2 separate regions of the Homo sapiens genome follow, and region 2 is linked to region 1. Evidence: fine-mapped expression QTL. A gene starts in region 1. The other region holds a variant in brackets. All regions are shown on one strand. Distances are between the middles of the regions.

Region 1 (11,117 bases):
CTTCCCCACCCAGCGGCAGCCGGAAGCAGCTGGGCCCACACACCTCTCCATGGACTCCAGCGTGCCATCCAGGCTGCCCAGGTGCTCCGGAATAGGCAGCAAGGTTTTGCCTTTGATCTTGCCACTCATCACAAACATTTCATTCTTCAGCCTGTGGACCTGCTTCACGATGTCTTCCGAGACCACCTGGGGCCATCCAGCCATGTTCTCACTTTGGTTTAACAGAGAAGAGAGGACCTAAAAGGAAACACTTCTGTGGTTCCGCCCCCTGTGCCTTCACCAGCTCGGCAACCGCACAGAGCCAGGTCCCCGGGGGGTTCCAAAGACCCGGTGTCTGGAGCCCTGGGAAAACTGGGTCCCGCACAGAGCCAGGTCCCCAGGGGGATTCCAAAGACCTGGTGTCTGGAGCCCTGGGAAAACTGGATCCTTCTTCCAGAAGGAGGTGTGGCCGGTCATGGAGTTTATACCAGCTGCCCTGTCCTGGTGGTACCAAAGCCATCCCCAAGCTCTTGCACCCATAGCACACACTCCTTGCTAAAAGCCTAGGAGGACTGTGATGGGTCAAACTGTGTCCCCCAAATCCATCTGCTGAAGCCCTAACTCCCAGCACCTTAGAATGTGACTATTTGGAGATAGGGTCTTTAAAGAGGTGAGTAAGGGCTGGGGGCGGTAGCTCATACCTGTAAATCCTAGGACTTAGGGAGGCCGAGGCAGGTACATCACCTGAGGTCAAGAGTTTGAGACCAGCCTGGCCAACATGGTGAAACCTCGTCTCTACTGAAAATATAAAAATTAGCCAGGCATGGTGGCACCTGCCTATAATCCCAGCTATTTGGGAGGCTGAGGCAAGAGAATCATTTGAACCTGGGAGGTGGAGGTTGCAGTGAGCTGAGATCACACCATTGCCCTCCAGACTGGACAACAGAGCAAAAATACTGTCAAAAAAAAAAAAAAAGAGGTGAGTAATTAAAATCAGATTACTAGGGTGGGCCCTAGTCTGACAGGTGTCCTTACGAGGAGGGGAGATTAGACATGCACAGAAGGCCGACCACATGAGGACCCAGGGAGAAGATGTCCATCTGCAAGTCAAGGAGAGAGGCCTTGGGGAAAACCAACCCCGCCGACACCTTCAACTTCAACCTCTAGCCTCCAGGACTGTGAGAAAATGTCTGGTGTACAAGCGAAGCACACAGGCCCCTGTACTGCAGATGAGAAGAGTGATGACCAGGAAGGATAAGGCACCCCCATTCTGGAGGTCCGAATCCCCAAAGTGTGTCCCCCCCACCTACACAGCACCTGCCAAGGGGGACAGCAGAGGGACACATAAAATGACACTCCATTTTTTCCCCTTTCTTAAGTCAAAGTCTCAAAATTGGAGAAACCTATCTGCCAGTACTCAGTCCCCACCTTCCCAGGCCATGGGCAGCAACCGTACCCGGCACAGCATGGCAGTCTCAATGCTGTCCAGAGAGAACAAGGGGATGCTCGGGGCTTCTCAGACTTCAAGGGCACGAGCACCACCTGGAGGTCTTGTTAGACAGCAGGTCTGTGGCCGGGCATGATGGCTCACGCCTATAATCCCAACAGTTTGGGAGGTTGAGGCAGGAGGATCGCTTGAGCCCAGGAGTCTTGAGACCAGCCTGGGCAACAGGCTATTTTTTGGTGAGACCTCATCTCTTACCAAAAAATACGAAAATTAGCCAGGTGTGGTGGTGCATGCCTGTGGTCCCAGCTACTCAGGAGGCTGAGGCTGGAGGATTGGTTGAGCTTAGGAGGTTGAGGCTGCAGTGAGCTGTGCTCCCACCACTGCACTCCAGCCTGGGAAGCAGAGTGAGACCCTGTCTCAAAAAAAAAAAAAAATTTAAAAACCAAAAGCAAGCAGGTCTGTCTCAGCAGGTCAGGGTGGACGGGGCCCGAGCGCCTGCATTTCCAATCCCTCCCCGGCTCTGCAGCTGCTGCTGGCCCAGGGACTCCAGGCTGAGCAGCAGGACTCAAGGCCGCTCCCGAGAAGTCGGTCGTGCTCGACACCCCGGATGGCAGCCTGGACGCACTCACCTCCTCCACCACCGCGATCAGCTGGTCCACGGGTGTGGGGCTGATGTCGCCGTAAAGGAGCCGGGCCCTGTAGTTGTCCTTGTTGATGTTCTCGGACTTTGTCTTGATGAAGTAAACCCCTTTGGACTTGAGGGACTGGGGGAAGCCCAGGCAGGGTATGATCATGCCGGCTGCATTGAGCGTCAGCACCAGCACCTGGACGTCGGGCTTTTCAAAGAACTCTGTGAACAGGGCCACGTTCTCCTCGGCGCCTATCAGCTTGCTCCACTTGTCCGGCTTGAACTTCAGGACGATGGAGGCAACTTCCTCCAGATACTCTAGTCTGACGTCCGGGGCCATTGTCATCTTGGCCTTTCCTTACACTGTGTATCTGTTAAGAGTGCAAGAAACAGGTACGAACTGTCTCCCGGGCTCCCCAATTTCCCACCCATCCCTGGCACCGCAGGAAATCTCTGTTTCTACCGGAGCAGGAACAAAACAGTTGGTCGAGAGTGTGCAGTTTTTAGCTGTGGTTGGGTTGGGGTGGGGGTGCTTTAGCAGGTGCTGGCACCTGCCCCGGCCCCGCCATGGGGGGTGCCCCGGGAGTGAGGCTGCCCAAAAGTGGTGTGTGCTTACAATCCTGTGACCATAAAGTTCAGAGGATGGGAAAGATAGAGATGAATGCTGGAGAAAGAGAGAAAAGGAAATGGCCGCAACCAGACAGTGTGAAGGGGATGGGGTAGGAAAAGGCAGAACAAGAGGCTGGGGGGTCAGGTTGAAAGGTCCTGGGAAAGCAATAAAAGACGTCGCAGCCCCAGAGTATGTGTGAAACGCAAGAAGGAAGCAGACCCCACGTGCAGGCCGTGAGGCTCAGCGCTCAGTCTTAGCCGCAGCCGTGGTGCACCTTAACTTTCACTCTGCTCTGCACCCTTTCTCCCTCCAGCCCCCAGCGTGCACCCCTAAAAGAATCGAGCTGCAAATTCCTGACAGACCCCTCACAAGCTGCTCAGATGCTCGGGGGTAGGGTTAACTAGAGAATTGGGGGGAAGGGATCCCCTTAAAGAACACCCTGAAGTCCCAAAGTTTAGGCAAGTGAGGTACTTACAGAATTTAAAGACACACCCAAACAGTCATCAAGAGAAAAGGCATGTCAATATTTTTAAACATCAAAATGAATGCAAACAAATTTATGAACAAAATACCAAAGTTTCAAATAAAGACAGGCTCTGGCAAGAGGCCTGAGGTGGGGGCCTTGGAGGCGAGTTCTGCAAGGGCAGGGTTGAATGCAAAGGGTCGCCTGATGCTGTGTTTTCATCACAATCTGGGAGGTATGCAGCTCCTGAATTTCAAGGGGAACCCTGGGGTATTCAGCTGCTCTGGGGGTCCGTGGGCTGGGGCTGGCCTGCTCCAGACCTGGCAGCTGCTGAAAAGCATCAGGGTGGACAGATGACGTTGGAAGCACTCACAAATTCTGCCTTTTGGTTTGACCCAAGCTATTGCTTTTAAGTTTGTAACAGCCTACAGTTCCCCAAAAGACACGTAATACCACGGAACAGGTTTATTTCACCCTGGCCACTATATATCGGCAAAACAACTATATGATGGGAAGCAGTAGTGGATAGCATTTGGATGCTATTCAAATGGTCTGAGATTTATTCAAGGCTCCAAACATCTCTGAGAGAGGACTTGGGGAATATTTGGCCAGCAAATGGCAGAAACATGGCGGTCCACGAGCAAAGCCACCCGATTCAGGCACATCTGTGAAAGAAAAAGGGGACACCACCAGGCAAGTAGGAGGAGCACCGCGTGGCATTTATGGAGATGACTCGTTCACCAGGTTCCCACAGGGCTTTCAGCATGCTGCTGAATTAATCTCCACCCAGGATCTCCGAGACCCGGGGACGCGTCACGTCGTCATTTCCTAGGGGGATCAGGAACTCAGGGGAGCCCGAGTCCTGGAAGGTTCCTGATTGGAAGTCTCGCCAAGCTGGTCAGGCGACTGGACTGGAGGGAAACATCCTCTGGTTTACTGATTTTGTGGATTTGGGCTTTCACAAAGTCATCTTTTCTTCCAAGAACGGCATGGGGTGGGCTGCCTCCCAAGCCATAACATGTGTGGGCTGAGGGGCCCCTACACCCCGCAAGTTTCTTGCACGATCGGGAGGTCTCATCTCAGGCTCCCACCCAGCCGTTTCCTGGGCTGAAGGCCAGGAGGTCCCAGTTAACAATAGGGTTGTCCCAGGCCATGCTTCCGGAGGGGCAGAGACGGCTTCTCTGGGAGGTGGCCCATGCCCCAGGCCTTCAGGACTCCACAGGAGGAAGCTGGGGCTAGGGGCTTCCAGGAGAAGCCAGGGGGCTGAGGCAAGGCCTTCCCAGGAGCAGGGAAGAGTCTGGAGCCCTGGAAGGGGTCAGGCTGGTACGTGGCAGCCAGCCTCGGGGTCCCAGAGCCATGAACAGCTCCCGGTGGCGAGCAGAGCCACTTCTGGGGTAAGTGGAGGGTCTGCTGTCTGCCAGGGCCTAGGTCCCACCTCCATCCTCTGAAGGCCTCCCTGCTCCCTCCACCTTGGCCTCCGACTCCCCCAGCATGGTTGAAGGCCGCTCACCAGCTGAAGGCAAACAGCTTCTCCCGCAAACTGATGAGCAACTCTTTCCCAAACCAGGAAAGAAAATGGCTCCCTTCCCTCGAGGGGCTCCAACTGCCACATAACTTCTGGGAGTCTCCTCACGGTACCTGGGGCTTCTAGAACCTTCCCCTTGGGACCCAAGTAACCAATGATAGCGCAGCAAATGAGGAACCAACCGTCACCCCACAGTGGAAAGGCTCTTAGATGATCATTTTGAGGGGAGGTTGGAGGGGGGACAGGGTCGCGCTCTGTTACCCAGGCTGGAGTGCAGTGGTACAATCATAACTCACTGCAGCCTCAAACTCCTGGGCTTACGTGATCCCCCCCCCTCAGCCTCCTGAGAAGTTAGGACAACAGACGCACATCACCACACCTGGCTAATTTTTGTACTTTTTGTAGAGATGAGGTCTCACTCTGTTGCCCAGGCTGGTCTCAAACTCCTGGCCTCAAGCAATCCTCCCAAAGTGGAAAGGAAGACATTATCTCTGTTTACAATAAGGTGATCTTGTATGTAGAAAATCCCAAGAAATCCATAAAATTGTAGAGCTAATAGAGGAATTCAGCAAGTTTGCAGTATACAAGATATTTGAAAATTAATTATATTTCTCTGTAATTATATTATGAACAATCTGATGATGAAATTTAGAAAACAATTGTCCCCATAATGAACAATCTGATCATGAAATTTAGAAAACAACTCCCATTTACAACAGCATCAAAATAATTTCGTTTACAATAGCGTCAAAAACAACAAAATACTTAGGAATAAACTTTAAAAAGAAGTGTTAAGACTTGTACACTGAAAACTGCAAAACATCATGGAAATAAAGACAACCTAAATCAATGGAAGGACATGCTGTGTTCATGGGTTAGAAGATTGTTAAGACGGGCCAGGCGTGATGGCTCACGCCTGTAATCCCAGCACTTTGGGAGGCCAAGGCGGGTGGATCACGAGGTCAGGAGATCGAGACCATCCTGGCTAACACGGTGAAACCCCATCTCTACTAAAAATACAAAAAAATTAGCCGGGCGTGGTGGTGGGTGCCTGTAGTTCCAGCTACTCAGGAGGCTGAGGCAGGAGAATGGCATGTACCTGGGAGGCGGAGCTTGCAGTGAGCCGAGATCCCGCCATTGCCCTCCAGCCTGGGAGACAGAGTGAGACTCCGTCTCAAAAAAAAAAAAAAAAGAAGATTGTTAAGATGACGACAGTTCTCCTCAAGTTGATCTGCAGATTCAACACAATCCTTATCAAACTCTCAGCTGCCTTTTTTGTAGAAATGACCCTAGATTTTATAGGGAAGTATGAGGGAACAAAAACCATCCAAACAACTTTGAAAAAGAACAAAGTCTGAAGACACACACTTCCTGATTTCAAAACTCACTACAAAGCTACAGTTATCAAGACAGTGCTACCAGCATAACAATAGACAGAGATCACTAGAATAGAATTGAGGTTCCAGAAATAAATGCATCCATTTATGGACGATTGAGTTAGCAAAGGTGCCAAGACAACTCAATGGGAAAAGAATCACCTTTTCAACAAATGGTATTGGAATAACTGAATACCCACATGCGGAAAAACGAAGCTGGGCCCTTACCTCACGCCATCTACACGAATTAACTCAGCATAGATTAACAGAATGCAAGAGCCAAATGTAAGAGCTAAAACTATAAAACTCTTAGAAGAGCACACAGGAGTTGATCTGACCTCAGATGAGGCAATGATGTCTTACATATGATGCCAAAAGCATAAGTGAGCAAAGGAAAAAAGATAAGTTTAACTTCATCAAAACCAAAAACTTTTATGCTTCAAAAGGCACCCTAAAAAAGGGAAAAGATGACCCATAGAATGGGAGAAAATATTTGCAAATCATATATCTGACAAGGGACTTGTCGTAATACAATAAAACAACCTAATTTTAAGGAGTAAAGGATATAGATATTTCTTCAAGAAAGATACACAAATGACCAGTATGCACATGGAAAGCAGCTTGATATCATTAGCCATTAGGAAAATGCAAATCAAAGTAAAATGAACTTCAATGAGGTCCCTAGAGTAGTCAAATTCATTAAGTAGAATGGAGGTTGCCAAGGGCTAGGGAGGGAGAATAGGAATTTATTTTTTAATGGGGCCGTCAGAGGCATTTGAACCAGAGCCACTCCATTTTGAATGGGGTCTGGGTAAAATAAGGCCCTACTGCATTCCCAGGAGGTGAAGGCATTCTTAGTCACAGGGTGAGACGGGGGTTCAGCACAAGTCATAAAGAGCTTGCTGATAAAACAGGTTGCGGTAAAGAAGCTGGCCAAAGCCCACCAAAACCAAGATGACCTCTGGTGGTCCTCACTGCTACACTCCCACCAGCACCGTAACAGTTTGCAAATGCCATGGCAATGTCAGGAAGTTACCCTAGATGGTCTAAAAAGGGGAGGCATGAATAATCCACCCCTTGTTTAGCATATCCTCAAGAAATAACCATAAAAATGGGCAACCAGCAGCCCTCAGGCTGCTCTGCCTATGGAGTTGCCATTCTTTCATTCCTTTACTTTCTTAATAAACTTGTTTCACTTTACTCTATGGACTCACCCTGAATTTCTTCTTGCACGAGATCCAAGAACCCTCTCTTGGGGTCTGGATCTGGACCCCTTTCTGGTAACAGGGTCAGAGTTTCAATTTGGGATAGTGAAGAAGTTCTAGAGATGGATGGTGGTGGTGTTTTTACAACGATGTAAGTGTACTCAGTGCCACGGAACTGTACACTTAAAATGGCTAAAATGGTAAATGTTATGCTCTGTGTATTTTCCCACACAAAAAAACCCCAATTCATTCCCACTAGAATGGATAAAATTGAGAAGACAGAAAAAAACAAAACAAAACACCAGGCACGGGCAAGGATGTGAAGGAATTGGCACCCTCATCCACGGCTGATATGGTATAAACATTGCAGCCACTTTGGAAAAGTGACAGTTCCCCAAAAGGTTAAACATGGGGCTACCAATTAGCTACCCCCTCCTAGGGGTGCACCAGGGAGAAATCAAAACACACACATATTCGCAGCAGCATTCTTCATAATAAACTAAAAGTAGAGGTGAAGGAAGACCTCTGTCCCGGCTCAGAGGGACATGGGAGGGGTGGCAGGGTCCTGTCCCCGGTGGGCTGAGGGCAGCCACATTGGCAGCAGGGTGCCCGGCAGCATCCCTGCCATGTGAGGATAGGAAGGCCACCCTCGGGCTCTCCAGAAGCTACCAGGGAAGGGCAATGAACGGAACAGACTTTGTACAATCTTAGGGTGTGTCCACCACAGAAGTTGGCACTGTCCCACACCAACATCCAGGAGCAAAATCAGTGCCACTAAACCGTCACTTCAGTTCTGCATATCACCCCAGAGCTCCCAGACACAGGGGTACTCAGCAAGCCCCCACAAATTCCAGCTGTCTGCCACTTGAGCTAGTAACCAGGCCCCTCTGGAGACGTCAGCTTCCTCGGCCACAGTTCTGAGGATGAGTATCCCTGAGCCATGGGGCGTTAGGGGCAAGAAGGGCATTCCTGGTTCCAGAAACACATGGTGCTTATTGCAAAGGAGAGCTGGCCAGCTCATGCCCACATTGGCCTAAGAAGAGTCCTGGCTACCGTTTTCTGAGCGATCACCGGGTGGCAGGTTCTACACTTCATGAGCCTCCTGGAAGGCACAGGAGCTCCATCCTTCTTCAGCTTCTGCCTGTGGCCCTGCCCTCGACCCTGGGATGTCACCTCCTTCCCCCTGGGGAGGTAGCAGCTTCCTGCTGCTGATCTCTGGGTCACCTCCCAGTCCCGCTGGGCTCCTCAGCTCTCCTGTCGTGTGCAACACAGCCTCTCCGGCTTGAGTACCCACGTGGTTCTCCTCCATGTTCTGCTTAGATACTGTCGCAGTTTCTTGTGGCTGCTATCAAAGCACCACAACCTTAGGCGGCTAAGACAACAAAAAGTTCTCTCTCCCGGGGGCTGAGGTCTGAATCAAGGTGTCGGGCAGAGCTGTGCTCCCTCCGCAGCTCTGGGAGACTTCTTGGCCTTTTCCAGCCTTTGGTGGCCGCCATCAAGCAGTCCTCGGCATTCCTGGCCTGTGGCTGCATCCCTCCCATCATTGCCTCTGTCCTCACACAGCCAGCTCTGTGTGTGTTGGGAGCAATCTCCCTTTGTCTCTCTCTTACAAGGACCCCTGGGAGGGCATTTAGGTTCTCCCCACGTAATCCAGGATTACATCATCATCTCCAGATTCTTAATCACATCTGCAAAGGCCCTTTTTCCAAATAGGGTAGCATTCATATGCTGAAGCTTTAACCCCCAACATGGCTGTATCTGAGATGGGGTCCTTAGGAGGTAAAGTCAAATGAGGTCATTAGAGAGGGGCTATAATTCAGTGGGATTTTAAGAAGAGAAAGAGCAGCTGGGAATGGTGGCTCACGCCTGTAATCCCAGCAGTGTGGGAGGCCCAGGTGGGTGGATTACCTGAGGTCAGGAGTTCAAGACCAGCCTGACCAACATGGTAAAACCTCGTCTCTACTAAAAATACAAAAAAAAAAAAAAAAAATAGCTGGGCATGGTGGCAGGTGCCTGTAATCCCAGCTACTAGAGAGGCTGAGGCAGAAGAGTCGCTTGAACCCTGCAGGCAGAGGTTGCAGTGAGCTGAGATCATGCCATTGCACTACAGCTTGGGCCACAGAGCCAGACTCCATCTCAAAAAATAATAACAACAAAAGAGAGATCTCTTTCTCTCTCCACCCTGCGAGGACACAGCAAGAAGTCAGAGTCTATAACCCAGGTGAGGGTCCTCACCAGAACCCAACCATGCTGGTCCCTGATCTCCGACTTCCAGCCTCAAGAACTGTGAGAACATGAATCTCCGCTCTTTAAACCTCCCAGTCTGTGCCAGCACATAGTTCATTTTACCCATCAGCTGGAACAGCCATGGTGCCCAGATTAAGCATTAATTCTGGGTGTGTCTGTGAGGGGGTTTCTGGATGAGCCTGGCATTTGATAGTGAACTTGGTAGATTGCCCTCCCCAGTGGGCAGGCATCCCCTAATTCTTCAAGGTCTTGAATAGAACCAAAAGCAGAAAGAGAAATTCACCCATCTGCTCCTGCCTTTGTGTCTGGGCTGAGACATCTCATCTTCTCTTGCCCTTGGGCTGCTGTTGACACCATCAGCGCCCCTGCTTCCCAGGCCTTCAGACTTGGACTAAACTACACTGTGGGCTTTCCTGGTTCTCCAGTTTGCAGACAGCAGAGTGGGACTTCTCAGCCTTCATAATCACGTGAGCCAATCCTCATGAAACTGCTGTCCCTCTATCTTGCCTATTGGTTCTGCTTCCCTGGAGGGCACTGATACGCGTATATGATATACAGCATGAGCAGTCCAATCCTTTCCTCATCTGTCTCCAACCTCTTCTATCATCTTTCAAACAGCTCAAGTCACTACCATCTTGGAAAAAGCAATCCTGTTCAAGCTCTTCGCCCTCTCCATCTCTACGCCTCTTCACTGCCACATTTCTCTAAAGAATGGCCTGGCCAGGCAGGGTGGCTCACACTTGTAATCCCAGCACTTTGGGAGGCCAAGGCAAGTGGATCACAAGGTCAGGAGTTCGAGACCAGCCTGGCCAATATGGTGAAGCCCTGTCTCTACTAAAAATACAAAAAATTAGCCGGGCATGGTGGCACGCACCTGTAGTCCCAGCTACTCGGGAGGCTGAGGCAGGAGAATCACCTGAATCTGGGAAACAGAGATTACAGTGAGCCGAGATCACACCATTGCACTCCAGCCTGGGTGAGACGCTGTCTCAAAAAGAGAATGGCCTGGAACATATATTTCTACTTTCCCATTCTTTCTCTCCACACCACCACTCCCATGTGGCTTCCTCCCTGCCCACTGCACCAACCCTGGGAAGCCAGAAGAACTGAACTGGAGGGAAGAGATGTAACCTGAATGCCTTAACCCAGAGGCTGCTCATAGCTCGTTGGCTCACCCCATATTGGTCACGCCAGGTCACATGGTCACATCTCACTGCACAGGAGGCTGGGAAATGTAGTCTTTGGCTGTGATGTGGTTTGGATGCTTGTCTCCTCGAAATTTCATGTTGAAATGTGATCCCCCATGTTGGAGGTGGGGCCTAGTGCAAGGTATTGGGTCATGGGGGCAGATTCCTCATGAATGGTTTGGTACCCTCCATGCAGTAATGAGTGCCTTCTTGCTCTGTGAGTTCATGTGAGATCCAGTTGTTTAAAAGAACTTGGAACTCTGGCTGGGCGTGGTGGCTCATGCCTGTAATCCCAGCATGTTGGGAGGTCGAGATGGGTGGATTGCTTGAGGCCAGGAGTTCAAGACCAGCCTAGCCAACACAGTGAAACCCCATCACTACTAAAAATACAAAAATTAGCCAGGCATGGTGGCTCATGGCTGTAGTCCTAGCTACTAGGGAGGGTAAGTC
Region 2 (8,000 bases), 41 kb before region 1:
ATGGGGTCTGACATTCATCAAAGAATCACAGAAAAAAGCATCTCCACCCTCCCCCTTGCTTCAGGTGAAATGGGGAGCAGGTCAGGGAATGGCCCCGAGGAAATGGCCATTGGTCTGAGAGCTGATGGATGGGTAGACAAGGAGCAAGAGAAGCGGCTTTCCTGGCAACAGCAAAGCACGTGCAAAGGCCCCGTGGTGGGAGGAGGCAGCGTGTTAGGGGAACTAAAGGAAGTCTACTGTCGGTGGCTAGAGCAGAGAGCACGAGAGGCCAGTGCTATACGGATCTTTTTAGTTGCCAGTGACAGAAAACCCAACCCAAACTGGTTAAGCAAAGAGAGAACTCGTTGGCTTATATACAGGACTGGAGAATCCCAAGGTGGTCGGTGTGTGTATTAATCACATTTTTATTGTCTGCATCTTATGAAATTTTGACATCTTATTTCTTTTTGAGACAGAGTTTCGGTCTGTCACCCAGGCCGGAGTGCAGTGGCCCGATCTCAGCTCACTACACCCTCTGCCTCCCAGGTTCAAGTGATTCTCCTGCCTCAGCCTCCCAAATAGCTGGGATTACAGGCTCCCACCACCATGCCTGGCTAATTTTTTGCATTTTTATTAGAGGCGGGGTTTCACCGTGTTGGTCAGGCTGGTCTCAAACTCCTGACCTCAGGTGATCCACCTGCCTCAGCCTCCCAAAGTGTTGGGATTACAGGCGTGAGCCAATGCGCCCAGCCCAATTTTGACATCTTAAAAAAATAAAATAAAAAAACCTTATGGGCCAGGAAGAGCCGGCCTTTCCCAGGGCTAGGCAATTCTTTGAGATAGCAAAAGGCTCATCTGGGGGCATGCATATGCAAACCAGCCGACCCTCAACCACTCCCCTTTACCCAACTCTCACACCAAGCCAGTATTTCCCCTGCCCTAAATCACCCAGGGTCAGGTACCAGACAACTGAAGACAGCCTATAGCCCAGAGCCCACATGACAGCTGCAGAGAGGCCCCATCGGGACCCAGATGTGCATGGAGATCTTGTCTGTGCAGGGGACCTCGTTGGTAAGGGGTGGCACGAGGAAACGGTGTAATTGAGGAGGTGAAGTCAGTGGGGCTGGGATGGAAGGGGAAGGTTGGCCCTAGGGCTGGGCCGGGCCACCCTGCATGTAAGTTGTGGATGGAAAGAAGCCACAGGGGAGAGAAACCTGAAGCTCCTCGTGGCTGCAGGAAAGCATTTGGTGTGTGCTTCAGAATTCAGCCATGGGCTCGCCTGTGCCTGACATTTGGCTCCCACCCCTCCTCATGGCCCCTCTTTCTGCTCAGGGTTGGGAGTGCAGTGTTCAGAGCACAGGCAGGTGCTTCTGGATTTCAGTGTTGTAACTTCCAGGCATCTACCTGCTCCAGCTGAGATTGTCCCCTGCAGTCCTTTGGATCTCCCCAGGTGGGATCCAAGTTCCAGTTGGGCTGGGCTGGTGGCAGCCTGGCATACCAGAGGCAGGTGAGACCTGCTGCCTGGGGTCTCTGCCCCTTGCTGGTGTCCCCTGTGGGCAGCTCAGCTCTCTAAATCCCTGTGGCAGCCTGGGGCCCACATTCTATCTCCTCCTTGTCCTGACCCAACTCCTCTGGGTTGGCCACCCTGGTACCCATGGGAAGCATCCCTTGGGTACTCTCTGCCACCAAGCTAGGGTACTTGGGTCTCTGGGAAGTGGCCCTGGGACCCAGCAGTCTAGATGCCTGACTCTCTCATTGTCTTCCACAGCTTGGCACCAGGTAAGACTCTGCTAGACCAGCAGGCTTTCGAGGGACCCTTCTCCTGGGCAACAGGCCCTTCAGCTCTGGAATGTTCTGCCTGAGCGTCCCAGGGTGTCTGCAAGGCAGCCTGAGTGTTTGTGCTGGCAGAGCCCAGGGGTGGAGCAGCTCTGTCTGCAGCAACCGTGGGTGCCCAAGAGCAGCCTGCTTTGGGGACAGTGGGAGGGGCACACCCGGGACACACTGATTCTGAGGACATGTGCTAACCTAGCGTCTGCATAACTGGGGCAAATTCTATTCTCAACTCTGGAACAGCTTGCTGCTTGCACTTGGGCCTAAAATCACAGCCATCTTCTCAGCATGGAAACCTCCTCCCACCCTTCCAGAATCCGCTCACACGCCCACTCCTCTCAGGAGCTGTCCTTGACCTTCTCAGGTCATTAGCTGTTCCCTCGTGTCCTCATGTCACCTCTGTACAAGCATGCCTCCCCACCACACATGCAAATACGCACACGGGCACATATGCATCCAAGCACACGCGTACACACACGAGCACACGCACATCCCTCCCTCCTGGACAGGACAGCTCATCTCGCTGTAAATATATGTTATGACAAATCATACGTGTCCATTATTTTACAATTCAAACAACGCAGAAATGCATGAGAGGAAACGCCTGCAGCCACATCCCTCTCCCCTCCCCTCCTTCCTCCCTTCCTGGTAAGCACTCACCCAGATTTTTGCTTGTTTAAGCAAATGAAACCATATTCTAAACATTGTTCTGTAACTTGATAAATGTCTAATAACCTGTCACAACACCTTTCCATCCTTGGCTCATTGTGACAATTCACAGAATCTGGGTTTGGGCCAGAATTGGTCAAGCCACTCCCCTCTTCCACAAACATTTAGGTCACTTAAGTCTTTTCAGATTTTTTTTTATTGCTATACAAATAGGTGCTTTGACAAACACACCACCTCAAACCTCCCTTAAGCGGGGAGCTGAATTTCCCATGACTTTTGTTGTCCTTCCTACCCCAGAGCCTGGCCAGGCTCTCCGTGTGTCTTGTTTGATGCGTTTAGACGAGATGATTTCAGAAGGCAGTGGGAGGCACATTTGTCAAATTGCCTGAGTACTGGGAGAATCAGTGTTTACATTACAGGACTGAGGCCGGGCACGGTGGCTCACACCTGTAATCCCAGCACTTTGGGAGGCCAAGGCGGGTGGATCACAAGGTCGGGAGATTGAGACCATCCTGGCCAACATGGTGAAACCCCGTCTCTACTAAAAATATATAAAAAAAAAGAAAAATTAGCCAGGCATGGTGGCATGCACCTGTAGTCCCAGCTACTCAGGAGGCTGAGGCAGGAGAATCGCTTGAACCCAGGAGGCGGAGGTTGCAGTCAGCTGAGATTATGCTACTGCACTCCAGCCTGGGCAACAGAGCAAGACTCTGTCTCAAAAAATAAAAAAATTAAGAAGTTTAAGACCACTCTGGGCAACAACATGGCAAAACCCCATCTCTACAAAAAAATACATCACCAAGCTGGGCTTGGTGATGCATGCTCGTAATCCCAGCTACTTGGGAGACTGAGGCGGGAGGATCAATTGGGCCCGGGAGGCAGAGGCTGCAGTCAGCCGAGATTGAACCACTGCACTCCAGCCTGGGTGACAGAGTGAGACCTTGTCTCAAAAAAATTACAGGACTGAGTGAACAGTCAGGAAGTTGGGAAAGGTTACCCTCTTGGCATC[G/A]TGTCGGGGGGTTGGAAGGATGATGAGGGAATGAAACCCAGGCAGGTTGACTGAGAAGAAGCTGCTTTGGGAAGGACGACAGATGTGGGAGTGGGGAGAGAAGTGGCCATGTCATCCTAGAGGTCACACGATGTCATTTAAAAGGTAAGCAGGGCCGGGCGCGGTGGCTCACGCCTATAATCCCAGCACTTTGGGAGGCCGAGGCGGGTGGATCATGAGTTCAGGAGATCCAGACCATCCTGGCTAACACGGTTAAACCCAGTCTCTACTAAAAAAAAATAAAAAAATTAGCCGGGTGTGGTGGCGGGTGCCTGTAATCCCAGCTACTCGGGACGCTGAGGCAGGAGAATGGCTTGAACCCAGGAGGCGGAGGTTGCAGTGAGCCAAGATCGCGCCACTGCACTCCAGCCTGGGCGACAGAGTGAGATTCCGTCTCAAAAAAAAAAAAAGAAAAAAAGAAAAGGTAAACGGCGAAGCCTTGCCGAGTTAGGGCGGCAACACCAAATGGGGAAAGCAATGGATGACCCTGTGTACGGCCAGAAGAGGCCAGGACTGACCTTGTAGTTCATCCTGTCCTTGGCCAGCCGAGGGATGAGCCTGGCTACGTTGTAGATGTCGTTGACCAGGCCCTCGATCAGTGCCAGGAAGCCGCGATCTGAGCCCACCTCCAGGGTCGGGTTGAAGGTCAGCCCATCCTCGTCCAGCTCCATGCGGATCTCAAACAGGGGAGCGATACTCTCCTGAAAGAGGGGTGGGGTTGGCAGTGGTCAACACCTCTGTCCTCCATCGGATGATTCTCAGTGCCCTGATCATCCACTCCGTACCATCAATGTGTCACTGCCTTCCACTTATCTGGGAAGCTTCTGAGAGCTCGTGTCTCAGCGCACCCCGCTCCTTGAGCAATCGCTACAGAGCCAAATGTACAGCCACAAGGCCAAAAGCAGGCAGGGGCAGGTTGGGGCAAGGGGAGGGGCAGGATCAGGTAGAACTCAGACCTCGGTTCAAAGCCCACACCTGCTACTTGCCAGCTCTGAGGCCTTGGGGAGTCACTTAACTCCCAGTTTCCCCAAATATATAAAATGAGGCTAAATATTTTATAGAATGGAGACATTGTTGGCTAGGCGCAGTGGCTCATGCCTGTAATCCCAGCACTTTGGGAGGCCAAGGCGGGTGGATCACCTGAGGTCAGGAGTTTGAGACCAGCCTGGCCCACATGGCGAAGCCCCGTCTCTACTAAAAATACAAAATAATTAGCTGGGCCTGGTGGTGGGTGTCTGGAACCCCAGCTACTCGGGAGGCTGAGGCAGGAAATCGCTTGAACCCAAGAGGCGGAGGTTGCAATGAGCTGAGATTGTGCCATTGCACTCCAGCCTGGGCAAGAGCAAAACTCTGTCTCCAAAAAAAAAAAAAAAAAAAAAAAAAGAATGGAGACATTGTTTCCATTGTTCTGGGTTACTACAGGGGCTAAATGAATCACTGACACACAAAGCAGGTACTGCAGGGGCTGGCCAAGCCTGCCTGTCCCTCTCCCTTGGAAGTCCCCGTTTACAGAGTTCTGGAGGCCCCTGTGAGGCTGCAGGGCTGCAGGTGCTGCTCTGGTTTACAGTGATGGGATTGAGAACCCAAGTGCTCTTCCTGCCAAACTAACGATTCTCAAAATGTGGGCCAGGATCCACCAGGCTGTGAGATCACACTGTGGCCACTGATCTCCCCCTGAATGAGTCCCCATTGGACCTGTGGGTTATGAGCTTTTGAGCCCCCCAATTTGTCTATGAGCAGGAGGGGGCTGTATCAGTATCTGAGTGAGGTGCTAATTGGGACAAACGGTCAATTGTGTGACCAGACTTCTCTAAAGACTCAGGTCGGCTCCTGCCCCCAGGCTACTCACAAAGTAGGAGGACTCCCTGGAACTCTTTGAGGAGAACCCTTTGTTACTGGGACTTCTTTATGGTTTTTGTTGAGACGCTTTCACTGGGACAGTCTGTAGTGACGAGTACTTTCGTCAACTGAATTTTGGGTCTGTGACTGGTTACCAGCTGGCATCTGAGACCCATATGCCAGACTCAAACACCATCCACCCTCCCTGGTCGGTACAAGGGCACGACACTGCCACGTTCCTTTGTTGTTGGTAGCCTGGGGGAGCCTTTGATCTTGGCCTCCTGGCGGTACTCAAAATCATTTAGAAACCATCTCAACAAAAAAGATGCAGGGCTGGGCACAGTGGTTCACGCCTGTAATCCCAGCACTTTGGGAGGCCGAGGTTGGTCGATCATGAGGTCAGGAATTCAAGACCAGCCTGGCTAAGATGGTGAACCCTTGCCTCTACTAAAAATACAAAAATTAGCCAGGCGTGGTGGCGGGCACCTATAATCCCAGCTACTTGGGAGGCTGAGGTAGAGAACTGCTTGAACCCAGGAGGTGGAGTTTGCAGTGAGCTGAGATCATGCTACTGCACTCCAGCCTGGGCAACAGAGCGGGACTCTGTCTCAAAAAAATAAAAAAATAAAATAAAAAGAAGATACAGGTAGGAAAGGGGCCATTGCCATGGAAAGCATGCCTCCATGGGATTAACCAGCACAACCTCTTTGCTGACTGGTTTACCTTCTACTCAGCCGTATATAATCAAGTAGGTGAGTGGCTGTTGTTGCTGACAGGAGACCCTCCCCCCAATCCACATGAGTAGGGGGCAGTGGTGTCCACTTTCCTTCACCTGGCAGTGAGGCAGGACCAGCCTCTTAGGTCTCTTGAGGTTTTCTGCAGCCAATTTATGTTATGGCAGATTTAAAGTGACCAGTGGTCCTGAGTGCCTGGGACTGAGGGGATTCTGGAATGCAGGACTTCCAGGTTTAAAACCAGGTCAAGTAGATTGCATAAGATATATTTTAATAAGTCTATTTATAAAATGATAGCCTGTTCATCAAGAAACTAGAAACTATAGATTCTAACAGATAAGAATACATATACATAAATATATTACCTTATGTTGATAACTTACATCTATAACCATGTTGTCCATTAGGAAACTCAGAGATTTGCGAATGAACTGGTCAAATTCATCTAAGACCATGTCGTCAATGTAGATGACATAATCCTTCCAGGGCAGGCTCAGTGTGTCTGCCCTGAATAGTTCTGCGTTTTCCTGCAAACAGAAGCGCACAGTTGGGCCTCACTTCACTGGCTGTGCTTGCTCTTTGATCACACTGTTTAGTGCCTCTCTGGACCGCCCGTCCATGTTCACACGCCGGACACACGGGGCTGCTTTGAGCATCTTGCTGGTGCTGGCCGCCTTCCTACTCGAGGCTTTGCACGGCTGCTCCCTCACTTTCTTGCTGGGTCTGGCTTCCAATCTTTTTGATTTCAGCTCAAATGTCCCTTCCTCCCAAAGGAATCCTCCATCTCTAGTTGGGTTTCCTCTAGCAAACTGTTATTTATGCCTACCATGGCTCAGAGGGCCACTCAGAATTATTTTATTTGTCTTTGTCTTTGGTCTGCATGCCCTTTTGATGCCCAAATTCATGAAGGTGAAGGTTGACCATCCTCTCCACCACTGTACCCCCAGCACTCAGCAGTAGGCCTAGCACAGAGCAGGGGCTGGTGGGTGGGTGGGGTGGGTGGATGGACAGATGAATGGGGTGGACGGATAGCTGGATGGATGGATGGGGTTGGTAGATGGGTGAGTGGGTGGATGGATGGATGGATGGATGGATGGGTGGGTGGGTGGGTGGGTATGTGGATGTGTGAGTGGGTGGGTGGATGGGTGGGTGGGTGACTGGGTGGGTGGGTGAGTGGATGGGTGGATGGGTGGGTGGGTGGCCGAGTGGATGGATGGGTACGTGGCTGGATAAGTGGGGTGGGTGAATGAATAGATGAATAGAGTGGGTAGGTGTGTGAGTCCATGGATGGATGAACGGGGTGGGTAGATGTATGAGTAGATGGACAGATGGATGGGTGGATGGGTGGAGAGATGAATGGGGTGGGCAGATGTGTGAGTAGATGGGTGAGTGGGTGGGTGGGTGGGGTGAGTGGATGGGTGGGTGGGGTGGGTGGATGGGTGGGTGGGGTGGGTGGATGAGTGGACAGATGAATGGGGTGGGTAGATGTGTAAGTAGGTGGATGGGTGGGTGGATGGGTGGGTGGATGGGTGGATGGATGGGTGGGTGGGTGGGTGGGTGGGTGGATGGGTGGGTGGGTGGGTGGGTGGGTGGATCGGTGGATGAGTGGATGGGTGGATGGGTGGGTGGCGTGGGTGGGTGAGCGGATGGGTGGGTGAGCAGATGGGTGGGTGGCGTGGGTGGGTGAGCGGATGGGTGGGTGGCGTGGGTGGGTGAGCGGATGGGTGGGTGAGCGGATGGGTGGGTGAGCGGGGTGGGGGGGTGAGCGGGGTGGGGGGGTGAGCGGGGTGGGGGGGTGAGCGGGGTGGGGGGATGAGCAGATGGGTGGGTGAGCGGGGTGGGGGGGTGAGCGGATGGGTGGGTGGGGGGGTGAGCGGATGGGTGGGTGGGGGGGTGAGCAG

Evidence for each region. PIP is the estimated chance that this variant, and not a neighbour inherited with it, causes the effect.
Region 2: its variant is the best candidate, but not a certain one, in a credible set for the expression of DNAH17 in monocytes after Pam3CSK4 (Quach 2016, PIP 0.67).

Annotation. Positions count from the first base shown.
Region 1 is chr17:78,572,658-78,583,774 of GRCh38, forward strand. It overlaps DNAH17 (dynein axonemal heavy chain 17), which reads right to left and starts at 4,739. Exons shown (of 81, transcript NM_173628.4): 1 at 4,638-4,739; 2 at 2,056-2,425; 3 at 44-237. The coding sequence starts at 2,400. RefSeq lists an enhancer at 8,140-8,641.
Region 2 is chr17:78,533,255-78,541,254 of GRCh38, forward strand. It overlaps DNAH17 (dynein axonemal heavy chain 17), which reads right to left. Exons shown (of 81, transcript NM_173628.4): 18 at 6,483-6,626; 19 at 4,045-4,227. Among named protein-coding and RNA genes, the nearest start is that of DNAH17, 40 kb to the right of the region's middle. RefSeq lists an enhancer at 1-313. The variant G/A (reference allele first, on the strand shown) is at 3,488.